Regions from separate parts of the Homo sapiens genome. Here regions 2 and 3 are each linked to region 1. Evidence: fine-mapped expression QTL. A gene starts in region 1. Each other region holds a variant in brackets. All regions are shown on one strand. Distances are between the middles of the regions. Region 1 holds the start of DOCK7 (dedicator of cytokinesis 7). Region 2 overlaps DOCK7 (dedicator of cytokinesis 7). Region 3 overlaps DOCK7 (dedicator of cytokinesis 7).

Region 1 (10,714 bases):
TCTGTGTCCCTGCCCAATTCTCATCTTGTAGCTCCCATAATTCCCATGTGTTGTGGGAGGAACCTGGTGGGAGATGACTGAGTCACGGGGGCGGGTCTTTCCCGTGCTGTTGTTGTGATTGTGAATAGGTCTCAGAAGATCTGATAGTTTTAAAAATGGGAGTTTCTTTGCACAGGCTCTCTCTTTGCCTGCTGCCATCCATGTAAGACGTGACTTGCTCCTCCTTGCCTTCTGCCGTGATTGTAAGGCCTCCCCAGCCAGGTAGAACTGTAAGTCCATTAAACCTCTTAATTCTGTAAATTGCCCAGTCTCAAGTATGTCTTTATCAACAGCATGAAAACGGATTAATACAGGACTTTTTAGCCCTACCACCTAACCTCCAGGAAGGGGAGAGGGGCTGAAAATTAAGTTGATCATCAGTGGCCAGTGATTTAGTTGATCATGCCTCTGTAATGAGGCCTCTACCAAAACCCAGAGAGCTGAACATGTAGAGGTTTCTGGAGGGTGGTGCACCTAGAGAAGGCATGGAAGCTCTGCGCTCCTTCCCACATGCCTTGCCCTATGCATCTTTTCTACTTATCCTTTGTAATATCTTTTATAATAAACTGGTAAATATTAATATTCCCCTGTGTTCTGCTCTAGTATATTAATCAAACTCAAGGAAAGGGGTTGTGGGAACCCCAACTTACAGTCAGTCAAAGCACTGGTAGAACAACCTGTGGCTTGCAATTGGCACTGGATGTGGGGGGCAGTCTTGTGGGACCAAGCCCTCAACCTGTGGGATCTGACGCTAACTCCAGGTAGACAGTGTCAGAACTGAACTTCAGGTAGATTCCAGAACTCCAGAACGGAATTGGAGGAGACTCAACTGGTGTCTGCTGCAGAATCGATTGCTTGCTTGATGTATGGGGAAAAAAATCCCACATATCTGGTGTCAGAAGCATGTTGTTAGAGTATGGGAAAAACTGTTTTTTTCTACTGATATAATAGTCCATTGAGGAAAAACATTATGGACCTATTTTTAAAGTAGGCACTGAGCTTGCATTGTGGGCCATTTTGACTCAGGTGGTCTGGCCTTTTGGTCTTTCCCAATTCTGTAAAGCAGCAGAACCATGAGGTGCAAATACGTTCTATTCTGGCAAGATCCCTATTGTAGTCTCTGCATTACTTTCAGGGGATCTGTAATAGACACTGTTGGTACCCTGTACTTCACCCCATGGCTCCTTTCCGATTTTAGGTGTAGCTGTGGTGAACAATTCTCAGGGGCACTGATAGCTGGCCACCAGAAACACACACCATGTCTCTTAGCTTTTTGTAGTATTAAGTGTGCGGGCAGTTAATATTCCAATAGTAAGCCTTCAGCCAAGAGATCTAGATGGCATCAGGTAAATACTGAGCCTCAAAGAGACAATTCTGAGGTGCACTCCACACTTTACGCAGGTTGCAGGCGGGATTGAGCCTAAATTGCCCACAGTGGTAACACCTCAACAACACTATTTACTGGCTTTCCCTTCTCTGTTCTACTCTCTCCACTTCCTCATTCCAGCTTCTTAGCATCACTTCCTAATAAACTACCTGCATCCAAGCCTCAAGCTCTATTTTTGGGGAAATATAAATTAAGGCAGTGATATGGTTAGGCTTTGTGTCCCCACCCAAATCTCATCTTGAATTGTAATCCCCATAATCCCCACGTGTCAAAGAAGAGACCAGGTGGAGGTAATTGAATCATGGGGACGGTTTCCCCCATACTGTTTTTGTGATAGTGAGTGAGTTCTCAGGAGATCTGATGGTTTTATAAGGACTCTTCCCCCTTTGCTTGGCACTTCTCCGTCCTGCTGCTTTGTGAAGAAGCTGCCTTGCTCCCCCTTCACCTTCCACCATGGTTGTAAGTTTCCTGAGGCCTCCCCAGCCATGCTGAACTGTTAGTCAATTAAACCCCTTTCCTTTACAAATTACTTAGTCTTGGGCAGTTCTTTATAGCAGTATGAAAACGGATGAATACAGGCAGGATCTAAAAATACTTTAGTTCATGGCATTTATTCACTCAAAAACATTTACTAAGTTATTATAATGGACCAGGCAGTGTATTAGATACTGGAAATACAATGGTGAACAAGAGATCAAGTTCGATGGGGTGCAAAGATTAACAGACAATACTTCAATAGTGTGGTGAGTATTACAACAAAGTAAATGTGGGTGCTATTAGTTGTTAAGTATGGCCAGGTTGAGGACCCCTTAATTTCCCCCTGCAAAAATTACACTTGCTAGATATTGACAGGAAGTGAAGCACATAGGACAAAGTCAGGCAAAAGCATCTGTAGCTTAGATTTAGTGTCCAACTCCTAGGCTTTAGTTTGGGATTGAGGTAAACCCACATATCATGCCTCAGTTCTCCCTTTCTCTGGGCCACATTCATTTGGCCTTGCTAGAGGCTTCCAAAGAAGGAAGCTCCATGTTGATCTTATTGTATGAAACCAGCGGTGTTTCATAAAAACCCATGCCTGGCCGGGCGCAGTGGCTCATGCCTGTAATCCCAGCACTTTGGGAGGCCGAGGCTGGTGGATCACGAGGTCAGGAGATCGAGATCATCTTGGCAAACACAGTGAAACCCCATCGCTACTAAAAATAAAAAAAAATTAGCCGGGCATTGTGGCGGGCACCTGTAGTCCCAGCTACTCGGGAGGCTGAGGCAGGAGACTGGTGTGAACCCGGGAGGCGGAGCTTGCAGTGAGCCAAGATTGCACCACTGCACTCCAGCTGGAGCTACAGAGTGAGAGTCCGTCTCAAAAAAAAAAAAAAGCCCATGCCTGAAAAAAAGGAACCATTCCCTATGCTCCCCCAAATCCCAAAAGAGAACACATTCTGCCTGCAAAGCCAGAACTTAATCCATCATGACCCGAAAACTCTATTTCTTTGTACTGTAGCCTTAGACCCTTGACCAGACCCCTCCACAATCCTCCTTGGTGCTACATTAAAGCGGGTAGACCCAAGTTCAATAAAGGGTAGAATGCAAAACTCATAATTTTCCCACCTTCTTTTCTCTTTACTTTTTTTTTTCTGTCATATCCCTAAGTTTTCTGCTTGAGGGACTTAGTACACTGGTATGTCTAATGAAAACTGTTCTGAGGCTTTCTTACCTAAAACTCACTGTTTTGAGTAGACTCTGCCAAATTGGTCCTGGCTTCTGGCAAGTAGTTTCTTTGTATCTTTCCATCAGTGGGGAGCTTGGGCCCTGAATTCTGAATTGGGCTACTCATGCTCCCGGAGTTGCAGCCAGCCTTTCTCCTAGGTTATATAACAGGGCTAAGGACAGGGTTAAATTCCATCCAGTTTTTAACACCTCATATTTGAGAACTGGTGCTATCAAGAATTTATATGCACTCCAATAGCTTCCTTAATTTTTCCTGTCTCAGCATGTAACTTACTATTTACTTACTTTTCTCTTCTACCAGACCCTAAACTCTTTGAGGACAGAAATACTGCGCTATTTACCACTATATTTCCAGGGTCTAGTATAGTACTTAATGAATGTTAGTTAACTGAATGAAGTCCTGTATCAGGTAAGACTTTGAACTGCTAATGAAAGCAAACCTAATGAAAAACCAGCCACACCCCCAAAAAAATTCCAGCACATTTTTAGCTCATGTAACTGCAAAGTCCAAGGCTCAAGTCATGCTATATTCTAAGGAACTTGTCTTTTTCAATATTTTTGCTCTCCTCTCTGCTGTGCTTGGCTTCATTCTCAGGTAGGCCTTCTTTAGATGGAGTGCCCTGGTATACCAAATGCAATTTCTAATTCTGGTTGGGCCCGATTGTCTTGGTTTGATTCATGAGCCTATCCCTAAATCAGTTACAGAAGCCAGAGGAGTGTGCTGCTTTGCTTGGTGAGGCCCAGGTCAAAAGACCCTTGAAACTGAGGGTGGTGGAGTGAGCTCCCCAGAAGTATAGTGGATTGACACCTGTGTGTGTGTGTGTGTGTGTGTGTGTGTGTGTGTGTGTGTAGGGGGTGGTATAGGGAGCATGGATGCTAGTCAGCTGAAGCAATTCCACTGTCACTCCCATTGCTGCGTTCCATATCTTTTCCTGACATTGAAACCCTGTGGGGCAGGGATACCAGCCAACATGACTTGGTCTGTGACTGCCAGCTCTTCCCCAGAGGTAGGGGGTCACCCTTCCTGCTTAGAGTGTTCCCCAGACTCTGAATTACCCTGCTTACAGCGTGATCCTGCTTGTCCTCTTCCTGCTCTAAATGTTTCCAGTAAGCTGCAGAGTACATGCAAAGTCCTTTCAGACACTTTGGCAACTAGTGAGTCATGTATACAAAGAACTATTCAAAGCAAAATGTGGCCAGTTCTCTAAGAGAGTAGTGAAAAGATGTTTGGAGAACAGAGATAAAGGCATGCAACATCTGGCTGGGAGTATGAGAGCAGACAACCAATTCAGGGACTATCAAACACCCAGGACAAGCTTAAGTATAGGATGAATAATGACAGTAACAGTGATAATAATAACAACAGCTGACACACATCGTACTTACCATGAACCAGGCCCTGTTCTAAGAACTTTATATTAATCAATTCAATAAATCTTCACAACACCCTTTCAAGTAGATATAATTATTTTCCTCCTTTTAGAGATGAAGTTAAGTAGCTTGCCTAAGGTTACAGAGTAAGAAAGTGGCAAAATAAGTCTGGGTTCCTATCACAGAGGGTCTTAAAAGCCAGGTACAGTGATAGCCTTGACTTACAGTCTGTGAGTACCTGGTTCATCTTTCCCAATGGACTCAAACATTCTGAGAGCAGGTCTGTGTCTAGTTCACCTTCGTGTTTTTTAGAACACCTAGGTGGGCTCTATACTTAGGTAGAAGCCAAATATCTGTCCTCTTTGAATAGACTATCTTTTCCTTTAGTAAACAAGCATCTGAAAACAGTGTGTTACTGGAGGGCGCCTTGGCAAGAGCCTGTGGTACTAGCTACTCCTCCAGAGGCTGAGGCAAGAGGATTGCTTGAGCCTAGGAGTTTTAGGCTGCAGTGCCCTATGCATTCCATGCTTGAGCAACACAGGGGGATTCTGTCTAAAATAAATAAATCAATAAATAAAAGCAGTGTGTTACTGCAATGAGCATTGTTATATAAATACACAGTCTTCCACAGAAGTTACAGCACTAGACAGGAAGTTATGGATCTGACTAATTGAGGCTTTCACCTCTGACTCAGTGTGTGACTCTGGCAAGTGACCTAATGGCTCCAAGCTACAGATTTTCCAATGGTAAAAGAGAGGAAAACAGGTATCCAACATATTCCACCAGGACATACTGAGAATATAATAATAACAATAAATAAATACACATTTTAAGTTCTTGCAATACTTAAGAGGAAAGGTACTACAAGAAACCAAGATATTTTTCTTAGTGTCACCATAATTTCAGTATCAACAGATATGCATTAGGAGCCAAATATTCTAGACATTATGGGATTACAACAGAACAGATGAAAACAAATCTCTGCTAGTCTCTGTTTTATAGGCTATTATGGACAAGGTCAGTTTCAGTGGTCAACACAGAGCTTATTTAACAGAACATCAAAATGGGGGTGAACGTTAGAGCTCACCTGGATTTTATATATATATATATATATATATATATATATATATATATATATATATATATGTATGTATGAGAGACAGAGAGAGATCCAAAAGGGGTTAATAATACGGAAACAACTGTCCTCAAAGAAAAGAACCGGCTCTGGGTTTGAGTCTCAGTGGAAGAGTTTACCATCTGTGCGACCTGGGGCCAGTCACTTAGCTTTTCCAAGCCAATTTCCTTCCCTCTAAAATAGTGATAGTAACGATCTACTTCAAAGCGCTCGTGCTTGAAAAACTTTAATCCAGTGGCTGGCTAAGCACCAGAAGTCAACTATTACTATTGTTATCGCTGCAGGAGCAAGGTATTTTCTGGCTCTTTCTCTATAAGAAAAACCACTGTTTCTCCAGTTAGGCTGCATTCATGAGGCCGAAGCAGAAACCCAAGTGCTTTAAAAAGCTCGGAGACCGGTGCTGCAGAAACATGAACCCAGTCATCCAGGGCTTTGGTTAAAGCACAGCCCCCTCGGCAAAGCCCACCTTTCATTTCCTTCCCTTCCATTTCGGGAAAGCCAAGCTCCCCCTACGCGTTCGGTTATCTTATTTTCTTGCCTCGCCAGGTCGCTGGCCTGTCTCTGGCTTCTCTCCGCGACCTCTCGGTCGTGCAGGCTCCGCGGCAGCGAAGCGGCTGGGGCTGGCGCCTCGCTTCCTCAGCGCTCCATTCTTCCCCTCGGCTCCCGCCGGCCGCAGCCGCCTTCCGCAGCCGGGGTTCCCGCCGGGATTGACGCGCTGGGGGAGGAGCGGTTTCTCGTTGCGCGCCTCTAAGGAACATTACGGCAGGGCTCGTTCCTGGCTCCGGCCGCCAGCCCCAGCCTCCCAGGTCCGGAGCCCGGACTGGCGGAGGCCGCGAGGGAGGGAGCACGAGCGAGGAGGCACGCGCCCGCCGGTCCGCACCCGGCCCGCCGCAGCCGCCGCCGCCGTCGCCGTCGCCGCAGCAGCCATGGCCGAGCGCCGCGCCTTCGCCCAGAAGATCAGCAGGTAAATATCCGGCGTGGGGCGCGCCGCCGCCGCCGCCCGAGAAAGAGCCGCGGAGTCCTCCCAGGCCTGGCCTAGGAGGCGGGTGGGTGTGGCGGGGCCGGCACCGGGATCCCGCGGCCTGGCTCGCGGCGGGGCGGAAGGGGTTCGGGGTGGCTGAGGGGGTAGCGGAGGCCTCGCGCCGCCCTCGAACCCCGGCCTTCAGCCCGCGCCCGCCGCTGAGCCTCGGCAGGGAGCGGAGAGGGCCGCGGACTCCAGCGCGCCCGCCTCCTCCTGCTCCTCGGCGGCCCGGGCCTGGACTTCTGCGGAGGTTTATGGAAGGGCGGTCGGCCGCTTCCCAAATTCTTTGTGTTCCCACCCCCGGGCTCGTCGGGGGCCGCCGCGGCGTTTCGCCCCCTCCCGTCTCTCCGCCCACCCCTCTTGGCCCCTAGAGGGTGCGGGGTCCGCCCTCCTCCACCCCAACAAAAGGAGAAACGCGCGGCGGCTCGGGGCGGGTGGGAGGCCGCCCCTCCTTCACGCGTCTCTCTCTTCCTGAGAAATCTGACAGGAACCCTCTTTGCACCCTCGGGCCAGGTTCAAAGTGGACTTGTGCGTCCAGGATTGAAAACGTGTGGACAGAATGAAAAGTTGAGAGCTGCGGGCTGCACCTTCGGTGTGCAGCTGCCGAATCCCTGACGGATTGCAGGCTGAAGCTTGTTCTGAGTTCGCCTGTGAATTTAACTGTGCGCCTGTGTTTCTCAGAGCACCCGAGAAGATGGATGATAGGCAGTGTTCTTTATACACTGACATCCTTTTATATGTTAGCAGTCTTGAAGTAAAGCAAGTGATTGCAGTCTTGAAGTAAAGCAAGTGATTGAGGTGGAGGTTTCAAAGCCTTTCACCTACTTGTGGTGGTTGGTTGCCACCTTTCTCCCACCCGCCAAATAAAAATTAAATGACAGAGGACTCTAATATTTGTAGAATTTCTTTGTGGAGTATACTTATGTATGAGACAGTAGACATTTTTGTTTTAATAAAATCATATTTGTGTGAATTATGATGTCCCAAGAAAAGAAGCATTCATATTAAATTACCTTTTTTTGTTTTGGGGCAGTTGTAGTTCTGTGGCTCTGAGTCTTTTTAGTTTGCTGACATTTCTTTAAAAATTTTGGGCCGGATGCAGTGGCTCAGGCCTGTAATCCCAGCAGTTTGGGAGGCCGAGGCAGGAGGATCGCTTGAGGCCAGGAGTTCAAGACCAGCCTGGGCAACATAGCGAGTCCCCCCCACCCCATCTCTGCAAAAAAATTAGCCAGGTGTGGTGTTGCACCTGTCGTCCTAGCTGCTTTCGAGGCAGAGGCTTTTTTTTTTCTTTCTTTCCAGCGTTCTAGCACTTTTTTTTTCCTGAAGGGGCAAAATAGCAAGTGTTTAAGAGCATGGGCTCTACTCTCAGACCCCGACATGGGTTCAAATCCTGATTGGTATTTTCTAGCTTGGGACTTTGGCCAAGTTGTTGGGCCAAATTTCCGTTTCCTCGTCTGGCAAATGAGAATAATAATAGGACCCAGCTCATAGTGTTGTTGTGAACATTAAGTGGCATAATTTGTGTAATGTGCGTAGGATAGTACAGGGCCTATACTACCTGTCATCAAACACTTGTAGTAATTAGTTTCTCCCAGGGAGTTATGATGACAGGAAATTTTTTTTTTTTGTAAAATAATTAGGTCTTACTTCTGATGATGATGTCATTAAAAAATGTTATTACTGGCCGGGCGCGGTGGCTCACGCCTGTAATCCCAGCACTTTGGGAGGCCGAGGCGGGTGGATCATGAGGTCAGGAGATCGAGACCATCCTGGCTAACAAGGTGAAACCCCGTCTCTACTAAAAAAAAAAAATACAAAAAATTAGCCGGGCGCGGTGGCGGGCGCCTGTAGTCCCAGCTACTCGGGAGGCTGAGGCAGGAGAATGGCGTGAACCCGGGAAGCGGAGCTTGCAGTGAGCCGAGATTGCGCCACTGCAGTCCGCAGTCCGGCCTGGGCGACAGAGCGAGACTCCGTCTCAAAAAAAAAAAAAAAAAAAAAAAAAAAAAAAAAAAGTTATTACTTGACATGTATTCCTAGTTTTAATTTCTCTTATTAGAACCAGAAGTTTATCTCTGAAAACATCATGCTGATAAAGTAAGTGCACTTTAGAGAGTTGGATATGAAATTGTATGTCTATTAGTGGAGTTCGCCACCAGATGGGATAGGACAAACCACAAGAGAAAAAGAGAATCAGTTGTGCAAAACAACACAAAATGCAAATAAGAACAGCTTTCTAAGAAGTTATAAAATTAAGATAATGTGAATGAAGAAATGTGCACTTATTGGACAGACAGGAGGTGGATATGGTAGTGATTGGTGATTGGACATGCAAGGTGAGGCGGACTGAGGAGTCTGGGATGACATCCTAAGTTGGGCAACCACGTGGATGATGGTGGCAGTCTTTGGGGTAAGGGAGTACAGGAGGAAAAAGGAGTTTGAGATTGGGAGATGCAAGTGGGATGGAGATGATGATTCAGTTTTGGACATGTTAATTTTGAGGGGCTCATGAATCATTCAGAGAGAAATATCTATTTGGTTTTTGGTGCAGGTTGAAGGTGCAGAAGAGAGATTGGGCTGGAGATCTAGATTTGAGAGTTATCAGCAAGTAGATTGCATTTGGAGCCCGGGGGTGGGTGGGGGTTGATGAGATTGTCCAGTGAGAATGTGCAGACTTAACTTGGAAGGAATACCAAAGACAGAACTGCTATGAGTAATGCATTATTAACTGCTTATTGTGAATGAAAGGTTCTTCCTTGTTATCAAATATGATTGAATAATACTTAATACTTCTGAATCAATTCGTGTTCTGCTTTTTAACTTTTCTATTAGAGGAAGTATAGCACAAATTCTGGAGATGAAGTTCCTGGGTTTGACACCCCAGCACAGCCACTCGTTGAGTAAACATGGCCAAGTTACTTGACCACACTTCTGCCTCGTTTTCCCTATCTAGAAAATGAGGATGATGGTAAGACTTAACCTCGTAGGGTTGTTGTGGGGATTAAATGAATTGTTACCTCTAAAGTGCTTAGAACAGTGCTCTAAGTGCCTAGTAAGTATCAACTGTTTTTTACTACAGTATTTATAATGTGGTTTGAGGCTTTTGTTGGAAATGATAATCCTTTTCCTAGTGTTCGTATATGAAATTTGTTGCTCTGTGAAAAGCCTGTTGCTGTTTGAAACCTTATTTCTTTTCAAAGCTTTGTGATTGTTCAGAAACCTATACTTTAAAAAGAATTATAATGATCTTGTTTCTGTCGCAGTTATTTTTTAGCCCCTTGCATTTAGTGCAGTTATTTTTTGAGGCTGTGATTTGGTGATTTCTGAAGGCTCTTTATTCTTATTATCACTAATTATACTGTTTACTTCAGCTCACCATAGAAAAGCAGCATGTATATCTTGTCCATATCAAGTAGTTGTCTTTGTACATGTGTGTCCCCTTTGCTTTTTGAGGATAAGGCCCATGGATTTATGGAATGTAGACTGTAGACAAATTGTCTAGGATTTTGTTGGGATTATTTTGTCCTGTTGCTTGATACTCAGCAGTAATGATGAACATTTGTGTACACTTAAAGCACTTTTTACTGCATTCTCATCTTCATAACCCAGAGAGGCAGAAAATGTACTAAAGAATATAGGATCTGGGATCAGATTGCACAGGTTGAAATTCTGCATATACCACAGAAAAATGGGGATAACAGCCTCAATAAAGTTAATGTGAGGATTAAATGAGTTAATACATGTGTAAGTGAGCTAATACAGTTCTAATAATGCATTAGTAGTACTGTGTCAGGAACATAAGCATTCAAAAATGTTAGCCACTGCTATTATGATTTCCATATTACTTACTGTTGTTATCATTTTCTAGATGAGGAATTGAGGCCTAAAAACAGCAACTGTATTTGCCTAAATTGGGACTCAAATCCTAGTTCTCTGATTTCAGATTTTTTTTTTTTTTTTAAGATGGAGTTTTGCTCTTTCGCCCAGGCTGGAGTGAAGTGGCGCAATCGGCTCACTGCAACCTCCACCCCACTGCCCC
Region 2 (8,000 bases), 160 kb after region 1:
TATAAAATTGAAATGAATATTCACTTGAATATCAGGAATTGTGTTTATTGCTAACACCAGGTTAATAAGTTGAAGTGGTATTACTTCTTCAAAACTAGAACCTACAGAGTTTTATTGCTCTTGCTTTCCATATTTAGAATTTACTTAAATACAGAATTTAGTTTGCAACAATATTTTCTTTAGGGCAAATGAGGGAATTTAAACCAGCAATTAGCCCGATAGCTTCCAGTTCAGTAAAACAGAAACATTTCCTGAGTATCTAATGTGTATTAAGAACTTTGACAGGTGCTGGTGTTGCAAAGATAACCAGCTATTTGCCTTAAGAGACTGATTGTTGAGCAGTCTTTCAAGTATTTTGATCACTAAAATGAATTTCCTTACCTGAAGGCAGAAATGTTTATATTCTTACATCTTCTGACTAGCAAGTTAATGTTCTCTGTAAACTATAAATTATTACCATAGCAATGAGTTACTGTTAAAGATATTTAAAATATTATCCAAAAGAAGTAAATCTAATAACTATAACATGTCAACAAGTTATTCTTTTAAAGAATAGTGGAGAATAGGAAAGGGAATTAGTTCAGCTAAACAGTTTTATTTATTTTTTTGGATTATTTTTCTTTAGAAACTCACAATCAACGAGGAAGACCAATTTGTATAGCCACTGATGATTATGAAAGTGAGAGCGGAAGTATGATAAGCCAGACCGTTGCCATGGCAATCGCAGGGACATCGGTCCCTCAACTAACAAGGCCTGGCAGTTTCCTCCTCACGTCAACGGTAAAAACAATCCTCCTACAGAATTTTTTTTTCTAGAAAGACAAATATTTACTAGGATATGCCCTTAAATATATGAGATGATTGTATCAGCTGATGCAAAAGTGCTCAGTTTTATTTATGAAAATATTAAAGTTCCCAGAATATTAACTGTCTTCTCCCAAACAGTTTTAAAAAATGATTACCTCAAGGTTTATGGGAAAAAGCCCCGTATTCTGTCATTCAGAATTTGGAAAATTGCCTCATTATAGATAGTTCATTTCTTTTTTTTTTTTTTTTATACTTTAAGTTTTAGGGTACATGTGCACAACATGCAGGTTAGTTACATATGTATACATGTGCCATGTTGGTGTGCTGCACCCAGTAACTCGTCATTTAACATTAGGTATATCTCCAAATGCTATCCCTCCCCCTCCCCCCACCCCACAACAGGCCCCGGTATGTGATGTTCCCCTTCCTGTGTCCATGTGTTCTCATTGTTCAATTCCCACCTATGAGTGAGAACATGCGGTGTTTGGTTTTTTGTCCTTGCAATAGTTTGCTGAGAATGATGGTTTCCAGCTTCGTCCATGTCCCTACGTCCATGTCCCTACAAAGGACATGAACTCATCATTTTTTATGGCTGCATAGTATTCCATGGTGTATATGTGCCACGTTTTCTTAATCCAGTCTATCATTGTTGGACATTTGGGTTGGTTCCAAGTCTTTGCTATTGTGAATAGTGCCACAATAAACATACGTGTGCATGTGTCTTTACAGCAGCATGATTTATAATCCTTTGGAATAGTTCATTTCTTTATTTTTTTAAACCTGTTTTATTCTTTGTCAGCCCTAAGAAAGATTCTCAGTCATTTGAGGGTTTTTTTAATCTGTGAATATTTATACTTTTTTATGTTTTGAAAACACTTGATATTTACTATGCCCCTGAACTTTTCCCCTCTTAAAGGCAGAAGGATCAGGGCAGGAAGGAACCAAATTGCCAATAGAGCAAGATCAAGTTCTAAAAGTTTTAAATGACATTTTTTTCCAGAAAAATGCAGTAATATTTAAGGAAACTTGACAATTTTATAGCTTTATTAAGATTATTTACATATCAAAAAATTCACCTATTGTGAGTATATATACCTTAATGGTTTTTAGTATATTTACGGAGTTGCGCAGGTATCACCACAAGCTAATTTTAGAACATTTCCAATACGCTGAAAAGATTCCTTATACCTATTAGCAGTCGTTCCTACCCCAGCACTAGAGAGTGACTAACCTACTTCTATCTATAGAATTGCCTATTCTGGACATTTTATATAAATGAAATTATTTACTATATGATCTTTTGTGTTTGTATTCTTTCACTAAGCATAAGTTTTTGAGGTTCATCCATGTCGTGTATGTATCAATACTTCTTTCCTTTTTTATTGCCAAATAGTATTCCATTGTATTGATACACCAAAGTTTGTTTATCCATTTGTCAGTTGATGAACAGCTGTATCATTTCCACTTTGGGGCTGTTAAGAATAATGCTGCCACGAACATTTATGTACAAGTCTGTGTCCACATATGTTTTCATCTCTCTTAGGTAGATACCTAAGAGTGGATTTGCTGGATCATATGGTACTTCTATGTTTAACATTTTTAGAGACTTCTAAACTCTTTTTTTTTTTCTAATGTGGCTGTACTGTTTTTCATTCTCATCAGCAATGAATAAGAATTTCTGTTCTCCAAATCCTCATCAACACTTGTTATTATCTGTCTTTTTGATTAGGACACCTTTAGTGATTGTAAATTGGAACTTCACTGTAGTTTTGATTTGCATTTCCCTAACAACCTACAGATGTTGAACATCTTTTTGTGTGCTTATTGGCACATTGTTTTGTATATCTCCTTTGGAGAAAAGTCTATTCAAATCTTTTGTCATTGGTCAGACACAGTGGCACACACCTGTAATTCCAGAAATTTAGGAGACTGAGGTGGGAGGATTGCTTGAGCTCAGGAGTTTGAGACCAGCCTGGGGGACATGACAAAACTCTGTTTCTATCCAAAACCACAAAAAATAGCCGGGCGTGGTGGCATGTGCCTACTGTAGTCCCAGCTACCTGGGAAGCTAAGGTGGGAGGATTGTTTGAGCCTGGGAGGTGGAGGTTGCAGTGAGCCAGGATTGTGCCATTGCACTCCAGCCTGCACAACAGAGCAAGACCCTGTCTCAAAAGAAAAAAAAGGTTGCTATTTTAAGATTTCTTAAGAGTTCTTTATGTATTCTGGATTTGTAAAATAATCAGCTATCTGATTTACAAATACTTTCTCCCTTCCTATGGATTATCTTTTTACTTTCTTGATGGTGTCATTTGAAGTGTGAAAGTTTTTAATGAATTCCAGTGTAGCAAATTTTTTTTATCAATTGCACTTTTGGTGACATTCTACCTATAAAATAATACAATAAAGTGCATGTACAAAATGTAATAATAAAATAAACAGCAGCATATCCACTGCTCAGTTTAAGAAATCAGACATTACAGCCTGGTAACCTTTGAAGCTACCAGTGGCCTTCCTCAATTTGATCTCTCCCTCCCCTGGGAATGACC[A/G]TTGTTCTCAATTGTATTAACCTTTTTATTTTTTTTAACTTTTCTTTTGTGAAGTATACTACATATGACAAAGTACATAAAACATAATGAGGTTTTAAAACATTAGAAAATAAACAGCTTTGTAATTACCACTCAGGTCAAAAACAAGGATGTTGGCTGCCATCCAGAAGTTCTTAGCATGCCCTTTCTCAACCACAGCAACCCACCAAACTCTCAGTGTCCTGATTGATGATATAATTGCATAATTTTGTTTAGAGTTTTACCATCTAGGCCAGGCATGGTGGCTCACGCCTGTAATCCCAGCACTTTGGGAGGCCAAGGTGGGCAGATCACTTGAAGTCAGGAGTTCGAGACCAACCTGGCCAACATGGTAAAACCTGATCTCTACTAAAAAATACAAAAAAATTAGCCAGACATGGTGGTGGGCGCCTGTAATCCCAGCTACTCAGGAGGCTAAGACAGGAGAATCACTTGAACCTGGGAGGTGGAGTTTGCAGTAAGCCTAGATCGCGCCACTGCACTCCAACCTGGGCAACAGAGCAAGACTCTATCTCAAAAAAATGTATAGATAGAGAGTTTTACCGTCTAAGTTTGCATTTTAAAAATATATAGTTTATAGTAATATATATATATATATATATATATAGTTTGGTTGGTTGGTTTTGTTTTGTTTTTTGAGACGGAGCCCTGCACTGTAGCCCAGGTAGGCTGGAGTGCAGTGGCACGATCTTGGCTCACTGCAACCTCTGCCTCCTAGGTTCAAGCGATTCTCTTGTCTCAGTCTCCCGAGTAGCTGGGATTACAGATGACTGCCATCATGCCTGGCTAATTTTTGTATTTTTAGTAGAGATGGGGTTTCACTATGTTGGCCAGGCTGGTCTCAAACTCCTGACCTCAGTTGATCCACCTGCCTCGGCCTCCCAAAGTGCTGGGATCATAGGTATGAGCCACCACGTCCTGCCAAAATACTGTAGTTTAGTTTTATATTATGTTTTTAGTATTCATTAATGTTATGAAATGTAGCTATAATTCACTGATTTTCATTTCAGTATGATATTCCATTGTCTAACTATAAATCAGTTTATTTGCCCATTCTGTTGATAGGTGCATGAATGGTTTCTGATCCTTGGTTATTGCAAATAACAATTTTGCAGACTTTCTTTTATATATATCCTGCATGCATATATATACTTTTATTTAGAGTATTTTCTAGAAGTGGAATTTGTTGGGTCATAGACTGTGGGTATCTTAATCTATACCAGGTAATGGCCAACTATTTTCCAGAGGGCGTACCTTAATTTATACTTAACACATACAATATGAGAGTTCTCATTCCTTCACATGTTCATCAATACTTAGAGAATTGTCAGATTTTTAAATTTTTGCCAATCTGGTCATTTATAGTTGAATCTCATTTTAGCTTGTATTTCCCCGAAGACTTGTGCGGTGTGCACTTTTCCATAAGTATGATTGACCATTTGGATTCTCTCTTTTGAAGTGTCTAGAGTTCTTTGCTTGTTTTCCATTTGGTTGTTTGCTTTTGTTTAATGATTTTTAGGACTTTGTATGTTCTAGATCAAGTCCATTGTCAGTTATAAGTGGTTCAAATATTTCTTCTCTGTGGCTTGCTGTTTTACCCATTTAATGGTGAATTTGGTGGTTAGAATGCCTAATTTTATTTTACTTTTTATTTATTTATTTATTTATCTTGGAGACAGAGTCTTGCTCTGTCACCCAGGCTGGAGTGCAATGGCACAATCTCGGCTCACTGCAAGCTCTGCCTCCCAGGTTCACACCATTCTACTGCCTCAGCCTCCTGAGTAGCTGGGACTATAGGCACCCGCCACCATGCCTGGCTAATTTTTTGTATTTTAGTAGAGATGGGGTTTCACCATGTTAGTCAGGATGGTCTCGATCTCCTGACCTCGTGATCTGCCCATCTCGACCTCTCAAAGTGCTGGCATTACAGGCGTGAGCCACTGTGCCCAGCCTAGAATGCCTGATTTTAATATACTTAAATTTAGTCTTGCAGCTAATATTTTCTATATCTTATTTAAGGAATTTTTTTCTGTTTCAGAATTTTGAAGGTATTCTGTGTTACATTCGAAATTTTTTGTTCTTCCTTTTACATTTAATTTTAAAATTAAAATCTACCTGAAATAGATTTTTTTATATACAGTGTAAGTTGGGAGTCCAGGTTCATTTATTTATTTATTTATATTGCATATTATGCCAGATTATTTCAGCACCGTTTATTAAAAGAATATTTTCCCTACATCTCTGAAATACTGCCTGTATATGGTCTACCATGTAGAGAAAGTCATACATTTTTAAAATTTTTCTTGGCTACTTTTTGGCCCTTTGTATATCTACATAAATTTGAAAATCAGCTTGTAAAGTTCCACTAAAATAAATAAACAAAAACCAATAAACCTGTTAAAATTTTAGTTAAGATTGTATTGAATTATGATTATACTATTGAATCTCGTAATTTTTGAACACAAATCCCCCCATTGTTTAGGCTGCCTTTAGTGTCTTTCAGTACATAAACTTTTTTAGTTTCTACCAAGGAGGACTAGCATATCTTTTGTAGATTTATTATTCGTGCTTGATATTTTTTAATGTTCCTATAAATGGTGTCTTTTTCAAAAATTCTGTTTTCTAACGTTGATTGCTTTATATGGAAATAGAATCAATTTTTGTACAGAAACAAAATACTCATTATCAAAAAAATTGATTTTTGTACAATGATTTTTATTTCCACAATATAAAATAAATGATAAAGTGATAAACTAATAACATATTTGTAGATTCTTTTTTTCTACACACAATCATATAATTTGTGAATAATAACAATGTAGTTTCTTCCTGTCAGTTTTTTTATATATGTAATTTATTGTACTGGCTAGTACCTCCAGTACAGTGTTGAATAGAAGTGGTGATGTTTGTATCTTTAAAGGTAAAACTTTCAACATTTCATTCTTAAACATATGTTCTGTATGTTTTGGGTTTTTTTTAAGATACCTTCCTTTATTGTGGAAGTCTCTTTCTGTTACTAGTTTACTAAGCATTTTGTTTTTTAGTTATGAATAGTTGAATTGTTATCGAATGCTTTTTCCACATTCATTGAGATGGCTGTATTGTTTTGCTTTTTGGTCTTTTAATGTTGTTTATTTAAATTGATTTTCTAGTGTTAAACCAACATTGAAATCCTGAATTAAACTCAACTTCTTCATAGTTGTGTACTAATGGATTTCGTTTGCTAATATTTTGTTAGGATTTGTATACGTATGTTCCTAAGATTGCCTATAATTTTTCTTTCTTATATTCTTTTCAGGTTTTAGAATCAAGTTTAGGCTAGCCAATTAAAATGAGGTAGGGAGTTTTCTCTTTTATCCTCTTCTCTGCAAGTACCTAAGATTAGAATTATCTCTTCCTGGAATATTTGGAGAACTTATGAAACCATCTGTGCTTGAAGTGTTTTCTTTTTCAAGTTTTAAAATTACTGTTATAATTTATTATCTGTGAGACTATTGAAGTTTTTTGTTTCTTCTTACATTGATTGTATTTATTTATTTTTATTTTATTTTATTTTATTTTTTGAGATGATATCTCGCTGTATCACACAGGCTGGAGTGCAGTGGCATGATCTCGGCCCACTGCAACCTCCGCCTCCTGGCTTCAAGCCATTCTCCTGCCTTGGCCTCCTGAATAGCTGGAATTACAGGTGCCTGCCACTGTGCCTGACTAATGTTTGTATTTTTAGTAGAGACAGGGTTTCACTACGTTGGCCAGACTAGTCTTGAACTCCTGACCTCAGGTGATCCCCCCGCCTCAGTCTCCCAAAGTGCTGGGATTACAGGTGTGAACCACTGCACCTGGTCTTCTTAACAACTGATTTTTGTAAATTTTATTCTAGTAGAAATGTATTCAAATTTCTTGACTTATAAAGTTATTCAAAAATACCTTGTATAATTTTTTAAATGTCTGTATCATCTGTAGTAGATGTAAACTTTTTTCTACGGCTAGATTTTTGTACCTTTTCTTGTCTTTATCAGTCTTACCAGACAGTCGAAATGTATTGTTAGTCTTTATAAAGAACCAGTATGGTGGCACTGTTGACCCTCACTTTTTAAAGTTTATTATTTACTATCTTCTGCTTTCTTTGGGTTTACATTCATGTTCTTTTTCTAACTTCTTGAGATAGATGCTTAACTCACTAATTTTCATCCTTTCTTTTTTGATATGTATTTTCAGCCTATGCATTTTTCTTTGATTGTTTAGTTAAATGCTGTTTATATGTAACATTTTTTTCCCTTTTTTTAAATTATACTTTAAGTTCTGGGATACATGTGCAGAATGTGCAGGTTTGTTACATAGGTATACACATGCCGTGGTGGTTTGCTGCACCCCTCAACCCATCAATTACATTAGGTATTTCTCCTAATGCTGTCCCTCCCCTACCCCCCTACCCCCTGACAGGCCCCAGTGTGTGATGTTCCCCTTCCTGTGTTCATGTGTTCTCATTGTTCGACTCCCACCTATGAGTGAGAACATGTGGTGTTTGGTTTTCTGTTCCTGTGTTAGTTTGCTGAGAATGATGGTTTCCAGCTTCATCCATGTCCCTGCAAAGGACATGAACTCATC
Region 3 (8,000 bases), 61 kb after region 1:
AGATACTATGGGTTAGCTACAAGAATACAAGTGATCTTTGGATCTTTGAACACAAGATTTAATACTGGAACTTCTGGGAGAAGTATGCTTGAGGAATACTGGGTAAGCAACCCAAACCCAGAAAATGTTTTGCTATTTTCCCAAGATTCATAACAAGAACTGAGCTTTTTCTGTAGATCTGAGCACATGATATTTTTTTCTTGATCCTTGATTACCTGGCTGAACTAATGGTTTAAGTATAGTATTCTGGCTGTCCCCAGGTTGTCATTTTACATTAAATTTGCTCTGTTACATAGTGCTCTTAAATATACTAGCAGCTTATTCTGCTTTTTACTTATATTTACATACACTGATAGAATTAAGTATACTTGAAATATACTTAAAATAAGAACTGTTTTAAGGGTATAGTAGAGATAGTAATAGTGCTATCATTTAGTTATCGTTTCATCTTTTTCTAGCCCTGAGTCCCAAGGTAGGACACTGTCATTAGTGTATACTTCAACATCCCATCTGCAAAGAGTATATGAGAGAGGTAGTATAGGTTTCAGTCTTGAGTGTTGATTGGCTTTTGCAGGCCACCTCTTGATGTTTGTTTCAGGAGTAGCCTAAAAGTTGAGCCAGCCTCAAGATGTCTTCCAGATATGCTTGTACTATTAAATATTTGGACCGTTAGTCTTTTTCCAGCGTTTAGTCTTCTTCTACTTTCCTTTTTACTTTTTACTTTCCTTCTTTTGTTACAACTCTGAGCTTGTTTATCATTGGCCTATTCGTGCTTCCCCACTCTTAACTCATGGTTGTTATATGTTAGGGACTATTTCAAATGTGCTCAGCTACTTCCATCTTTTATAGAGTAACAAAATTTAACAAATTATAACTAGAATATTTTGTAGTTACCAGTTGCTGACTAGACCATGGTTATACTTCCTAAAACAATACTTGGAATACATAATACATGTTTGGTACTTACTCTCTTCTCCCCAGAATAACATAATCACAAATAGAAATTTCAAAGACCTGCTCTGTACGTACATTTGTAGAATGTGTTGAGTTTGTTCACTGGTTAAGATATTGCACTAATACTTCATCTCTGTAAGGTACAGATTTTTTTCTCATCTCTGCTGAGAATTGAGACTTCTCATCCTTTTCCTTTATGTAGTATGAAATAGCCTTTAACTGATTTCTTTCAAGTATAATCATATAATGTATAAAGTTCTGTTTTGCAGAATAAAGAAAAACTGGAGAAACTGAAGAGTCAAGCAGATCAGTTTTGCCAAAGACTTGGGAAATATCGCATGCCTTTTGCTTGGACTGCAATCCATTTAATGAATATTGTTAGCAGTGCTGGGAGTTTGGAAAGAGATTCTACAGAAGTAGAAATCAGTACTGGAGGTAAGAGTGTTTCATACAAAACATTTCTAAATGTTTACTTTTTTCTTTTTTTTTTGAGATGGAGTTTCGCTCTATGGCCTAGGCTGGAGGGCAGTGGCACGATCTTGGCTCACTGCAACCTTTGCCACCGGGGTTCAAGCAATTCTCCTGCCTCAGCCTCCTGAGTAGCTGAGATTACAGATGTGCGCCACCACGCCTGGCTAATTTTTGTATTTTTAGTAGAGATGGGGTTTCACCATTTTGGCCAAACTGGTCTCGAACTCCTGACCTCAAGTGATCTGCCTGCCTCGGCCTCCCAAAATGCTGGGATTATAGATGTGAGCCACCATGCCCGGCCTCTTTTTTCTTATATAAGCTTGTTTCATTTGTAGACTCTGCAATGTAATATTGCATAAAAAGGATTTTCTTTTTTCTTTTTTTTTGCCTTTTTCTCATTTAACACCATTATTAAGATATAATTCACATACCATATAAGTCACCAATTTAAATTGTACAATACAGGAGATCTTCAAATATCTCATTTTGTTTTTGATTTTTTATAATGTTGATGAGGAAACAAATTGATTCCTGGCTGGAGCTACTGTCTGTGTAGAGTTTGCATGTTCTCCCCAAGTCTGTGTGGGGAGTTTTGGGTACTCATTTCCTCCCAAATCCCAAAGCTGTGTGCATGAGGTTAATTGGCATGTCTTAAGTGGTAGCAGCGTAAGGTAACATGGGTGTGTGTGTGTGAGTGCACCTGTGATGGAATAGCGTCCTGTCCAGGACAGGTGCCTGCCTGTCGTGCGGGACCCCTATTGACTTTGGTAAGTATAACATCATATCACAGGCTGAAGAAGAGATGGGGAGCCAGAGAATGAGACATAGGGTTTACTGAGGGAACTTACATGCAGAGTGGCGAGCTGGACCGAAAACCACAGCCACTTGAAAAAGCATGCAGTTTATGTAGCATTTTCACTTAGCATCCTCCCCCTAGTAACTTCTACCTGGAAACCCTCATTTAACCCAAAACAAAGGGCCTTGATTCCATGTATGGCCTAGATTTCACTGGATGGGCTAGAAGTTCAGATGTCCTTATTCTCATAGATAAGGAATGAGTCTTCAAGTTTGGCCACTCCCAGGTTCCTTAGCTCGGAACTCCGAATACACATTCTTTTTAGACCATAGGGTCATTCTCAGGGCTTGCTTAAGTTACTGCTGTCGGGTGCATTTGCCATACACTGCCTTCTTTCATGCGCTGCTGGAACAGGCTTCGGCCATTTGTGACCCTGAACTGGGATAATTGGGTAAATAATTATCCTACTTATTTTTATTAATCTTTCTTAAATGTATGTACAGTGCACATTTATTTGAATGTTTAATATTAGAAGTGTTTTGAATATTTAGAAGTTTGGTTAAGTTTTTGTGACCAGAAATATGCTGTAGGGACTTAACTCTTGCTTATATTGATTAGCATGTGGTAAAATTGATTTGTTATACAACGTGTTGCTTAAAGTCACAGTTTTGAAGAACTGATCCATGATGTTAAATGAGGACTTACTGTGCAGTGTTTTCTTGGTATATTCACAGGGTTCTGCAACCACTGCTACAGAATACTTCTGTATCCATCTTGGAACACTTTTGTACCCATTAGCAGTGGTCACTCCTCATTCCCCCAGAGTCTTGCAACCTGTCCCTAAACAACCTTTAATATATATTCTGTCTCTATAGATTTGTCTATGCCAGACATTTCATACATATTGACTTGTATAATATGTAGTCTTTTGTGGCTAGCTTCTTTCACTTGCCATAATGTTTTTCAGGTTCATCCATGTCGTAGCATGTATTGGTATTATTTATTTTTATTGCCAAATGATAGTCTGTTGTATTGATATACTATATTTATTTATCAGTTGATTTGGGTTTTCTACTTTTAGTTTATTATGCATAATGTTTCATAGTGTTGAAACGTCATTTACAAGCTTTCGTGTGGACATTTTTTTTCCTTAGATATGTAGATATATAGCTAGGAGTGAAATTGCTGGGTCATATGATAATTCTGTGCTTAATCTTTTGAAGGACTGCCACACTGTTTTCCAATTTGGCTGCACCTTCAAAAATTCCACTAGCATTCCACTAGTGTGTGAAGGTTCCAGTTTCAGCATATCTTTACCAGTGTAACATATTATCTGCTCTTTGATTGTAGTCATTCTAGTGCAAGTGAAGTGGTACTCATTGTAGGTTGGATTTACCTTTTCTTAAAAGCTAGCGATATTAAGCATCATTTTGTGTGTATTGGCTATTTGTGTATCTTTCTTGGAGTAATAGGTATTTTTAACCTTTGCTCATTTTTTAATGGCTTTGGTCTTTTTATTATTTATTAATAGTTGATGCCTATTTTTTAAATGGGGTTTTAACCTTCTTGGCATTGAGTTGTAGGAGTTCTTTATATGTTCAAGATGCAAATTCCTTGCCTAATATATGATAGCAAATTTTCTCCTAGTCTGTGAGTTCACTTTTCTTGATGGTATTGTTCGTAGCACAGAAGTTTTAAATTTTGAGGAAGTTACATTTTTCTATTTTTTTCTTTTGTCACTGTGCTTTTGGTGTTTTATCTAAGAAACCATTATGTAATATGAATCAAAATTTACTTGTATGTATTCTTGTAAGAGTTTTATAGTTTCAGCTGTTACATTTAGGTTTATAATAATCCATTTTGAGTTAATA[T/C]TTGTATGTTGTGAGGTAGTCCAATTTCATTCTTTTTATGTGGATATCCAGTTGTTTCAGCACCATTTATTAAAAAGGCTATTCTTTTCCCATTGAATTTTCTTAGATCCCTTATTGAAAGTCAATTGACCATTCATGTGGGATTTATTTCTGGACTCTCCATCCCATTCCACTGATCTGTATGCCAGTGCTTTACTGCAGGGGTTCCTAATCCCCAGGTGGCGGACAGGTACCTGTCCTGCCTGTTAGGATCCGGGCCGTAGAGCAGTAGGTGAGCAGCAGCTGAGCTAGCATTATCGCCTGAGCTCTGCCTCCTCTCAGATCAGTAGTGGCATTAGATTCTGGTAGGAGCATGAACCCTATTGTGAGCTGCACATGCAGGGGATCTAGGTTACGTGCACCTTATGGGACTCTAATGATAAATGTAATGCGCTTTAATCATCCTGAAACGATCCCCACAACCCCATCTGTGGAAAAATTTTTTTCCATGAAACCAGTCCTTGGTGCCAGAAAGGTTGGGGACCGCTGCTATACCAAATTACTTTACCTTTGAAGGCTAAGTTTTGAAATTGAGAAGAGTGGGTCTTCCAGCTTTTATCCTGTTTCAAGATTTGTTTTGGCAATTTTGGGTTTCTTTTATTTCCATATAAATTTAGGACCAGCTGTCAGTTTGTGCACAAAGGCATCTGGGATTTTGATAGGGCTGACATTGAATCTCTAAGTCAATTTATAGATTGTTGCCATTTTAACAATTTTAAATCTTTGAATCTATGAACATGAAATTTTTTTCATTTATTTAAATCTTTTTCATTTTTTTCAGTGTTGTGTCATTTTCAGTGTACAAGTCCTTCTCTTGTTAAATTTATACCGTAGTATTTTATCGTTTCTTGATAATATTTTAAATGGAATTGTTTTCTTAATTCTGTCTTTAGAAAGTCCATTTCTAGTGTATAGAAATAAAATTGGCTTTTGTATATTGATCTTATACTCTGAACCCTTTTTGAATTTGTTTACTAAATTCGAATTGTTATTGTTCGTTTTTTTCCCCAGATTTTTTAGGATTTTCTGTATACAAAACCGTGTCATCTGCAAATAAAAAGTAGTTCACTTTTCTTTTTCAGTCTGGGTGCCTTTTATTTCTTTCTCTTTTCTGTCTTTATTAGAACCTCTTCTGCAATGTTTTAGAAATGACAAGAGTGGATATCCTTGTCTTATTCTTGACTTTAGGGAAAATGCAATCAGTCTTTCACCATCAAGTATGATATTTGCTGTTGGCTTTTCATAGATGTATTTTGGTAGATTGAGGAAGTTCTCTTCTATCCCTAATTTTTAAAAGTGTTTTTATCATGAAAGTCTGTTAGATTTTGTAAAATACTTTTTCTGCCTCTATTAGAATTATTTGTCCTGTATCCTTTTAATGTGGTGTTGCATCGAATGATGTGGTTTTTGGATGTTAAATTAACCTTAAATTCCTGGGAAAAGTCTTGCTTGGTCATGGCATGTAATCTTTTTTATGTGTTGTTGGAGTCTGTTTGCTAGTATTTTGTTCAGGATTTTTGCATCTATATTCATAAGGTATATTAGTCTGTAGTTTTTCTTTCTTTTGATGACTCTGTCTGGTTTTGGTATCAGGGTAATACTGGCCTCATAGAATGAGTTGTGAAGTGTTCCTTCCATTTTTTTGGAAGGGTTTTTGAAGGATTGGTATTCTTTGAAAGTTTGGAAGAATTCACCAGTGAACCTGTCATGGCCTGGTCTTTTCTTTGTGGTAAGTTTTTTCATTACTAACTCGATCTCTTTACTTGTTTTAGGTCTATTCACATTTTCTTTCATCTTGAGTCAGTTTTAATATAAATACTTTGAATCTTTCTAGAAATTTGTCCATTTCATCAAAGTTATCTAGTTGGTATCTAATCTAAGTGTTGGCCTACAGTTGTTCATAGTATTGCTGTATATTCCTTTATTCCTTTTACTCTGTAAAGTCTGTAAATGATATCTCTTCTTTCATTCCTGATTTTAGTAATTTGAGTCTTTTTTTTTTTGGTTCATCATTTTAGCTAAAGATTTGTCGGGTTTATCTTTTTGAACAAACAGTTTTTGGTTTAATTGATTTTTCTGTATGGTTTTTATAGTTTCTATTTTCCTTATTTCCACTCTGCAGTTGCCTCTTGTAGCCTTCTGCTGGTTTCGGATTTTTTTTCTCTTCTTTTGTAGTTTGTAGTTTGTTGAAGTCTGAGGTTATATTACTGATTTGAGATAGTTCTTTTTAAAATAGACATTAATAGCTGTAAATCCTCCCCCGAGCACTGCTTTAGCAATGCTTTGGTATGTTGTTCTTGCATTTTCATACATCTTAAATACTTCCTAATTTCTATTATTCCTTCTTTTTCCATTAGCTATTTTTTAAATGGGCTATTATACTTACATACATTTGTGAATTCCCCAAATTTTCTTCTGTTATTGATTTATAGTTTAATTCTTCTGTTGTTGGAGAACATTTTTATATGATTTTAATCTCTTTGAATGTATTGTATGTTGTTTTATGGCTTAGTATATAGACTGTTTTAGAGAATATTTTCTAAGTGCTTGACAAGAATGTATATTCTGCTCTTGCTTAGTGTACTTTAGTGTAGTGTAAATGTCCATTAGGTCTAGTTTGTTTATAGTTTTGTGCAAGTATTCTATTTCCTTGTTAATCTTCAGTCTAGTTCTGTTGGTTTTAAATAATAGGATTATCTTGCAAGTACTTTGAATACAAATTATCTTACAATTCTCTTTCAAACTAAAGAGCTAAGACTGAGGGAAGATTAACGATGACTAAAATTTTCCTGTGGTAAACATTTTGTAGTAAATGCATACTTCCTCTATAGCTGCTCTTTGTGGCTCATCATTGGTCATGCCCATAGATCTTTGCATGTTAGAAACTTATTTTTACACCTGTGATGTTGTAAAAAGACAACCAGAAGATTTAGGTACTTTCTTACTAATCTCTCCAAAAGCAAAATTCTCCTACTATACTTGATATGCTGAGTGGGTAATTTTCAATTTAGTAGATTCTTCCTTGTGTTTGGAAAGCTACTTTAAAACAAAATTTAACTTCTATGAAAATGAATTTTTTTTTTAATTCTTTTGTAGAACGAAAAGGGTCTTGGTCAGAGAGGAGGAATTCTAGTATTGTTGGCAGACGATCACTTGAAAGGACAACAAGTGGAGATGATGCTTGTAACTTGACGAGCTTTCGACCAGCTACTCTCACAGTGACAAATTTTTTTAAGCAGGTATTGTTCTGTCATGTAGGAATTTTGGGGAGATGTTTGTGCATAAATTTTTTTAATTTCAGAAAGGTAGTGATTGTACTATACATGTATGGGAGGGTGATTCCAAGAAACTTAAAAACTTTAAGAATAAAAATAATAAAAGCAACTATAAGAATGAGAAACGATTTATATTGTTCCTATTATTTTAGCATTATATTTATTTAAATGTTGAAATGTTGACCATGACTAATAATGCATCAAAATCCATCTTTCATACCTGTATCCTGTTTTTTTTTGTTTTTTTTTCTTGAGACAGAGTCTCGCTCTGTTGCCCAGGCTGGAGTGCAGAGACAGATCTCGGCTCACTGCAACCTCCGCCTCCCAGGTTCAAGCAGTTCTCCCTGCCTCAGCCTCCTGAGTAGCTGGGATTGCAGGCACCCACCATGCCTGGCCAATTTTTGTATTTTTTAGTAGAGACAGGATACTAAATGTTGGCCAGGCTGGTCTCGAACTCCTGACCTCATGATCCACCCTCCTCGGCTTCCCAGCTGGGATTACAGGTGTGAGCCACCATGTCCAGCCTGTATCCTATTTCCAAATTGTTAATAGTGTAACTTTTCTTAAACATTGGTTGTTTATGAATTTTCTTTA

The links.
Region 2: its variant is fine-mapped to the expression of DOCK7 in whole blood (TOPMed, PIP above 0.99).
Region 3: its variant is fine-mapped to the expression of DOCK7 in whole blood (INTERVAL, PIP above 0.99).

The regions. Positions count from the first base shown.
Region 1 is chr1:62,684,134-62,694,847 of GRCh38, reverse strand. It overlaps DOCK7 (dedicator of cytokinesis 7), which reads left to right and starts at 6,462. Exons shown (of 50, transcript NM_001367561.1): 1 at 6,462-6,621. The coding sequence starts at 6,584. It overlaps DOCK7-DT (DOCK7 divergent transcript), which reads right to left and starts at 6,366. Exons shown (of 2, transcript NR_185999.1): 1 at 6,196-6,366. RefSeq lists an enhancer at 5,056-5,350 and a silencer at 6,360-7,109.
Region 2 is chr1:62,520,931-62,528,930 of GRCh38, reverse strand. It overlaps DOCK7 (dedicator of cytokinesis 7), which reads left to right. Exons shown (of 50, transcript NM_001367561.1): 31 at 626-780. Among named protein-coding and RNA genes, the nearest start is that of ANGPTL3, 73 kb to the left of the region's middle. The variant A/G (reference allele first, on the strand shown) is at 3,354.
Region 3 is chr1:62,624,629-62,632,628 of GRCh38, reverse strand. It overlaps DOCK7 (dedicator of cytokinesis 7), which reads left to right. Exons shown (of 50, transcript NM_001367561.1): 11 at 1,224-1,389; 12 at 7,228-7,370. Among named protein-coding and RNA genes, the nearest start is that of ANGPTL3, 31 kb to the right of the region's middle. The variant T/C (reference allele first, on the strand shown) is at 4,093.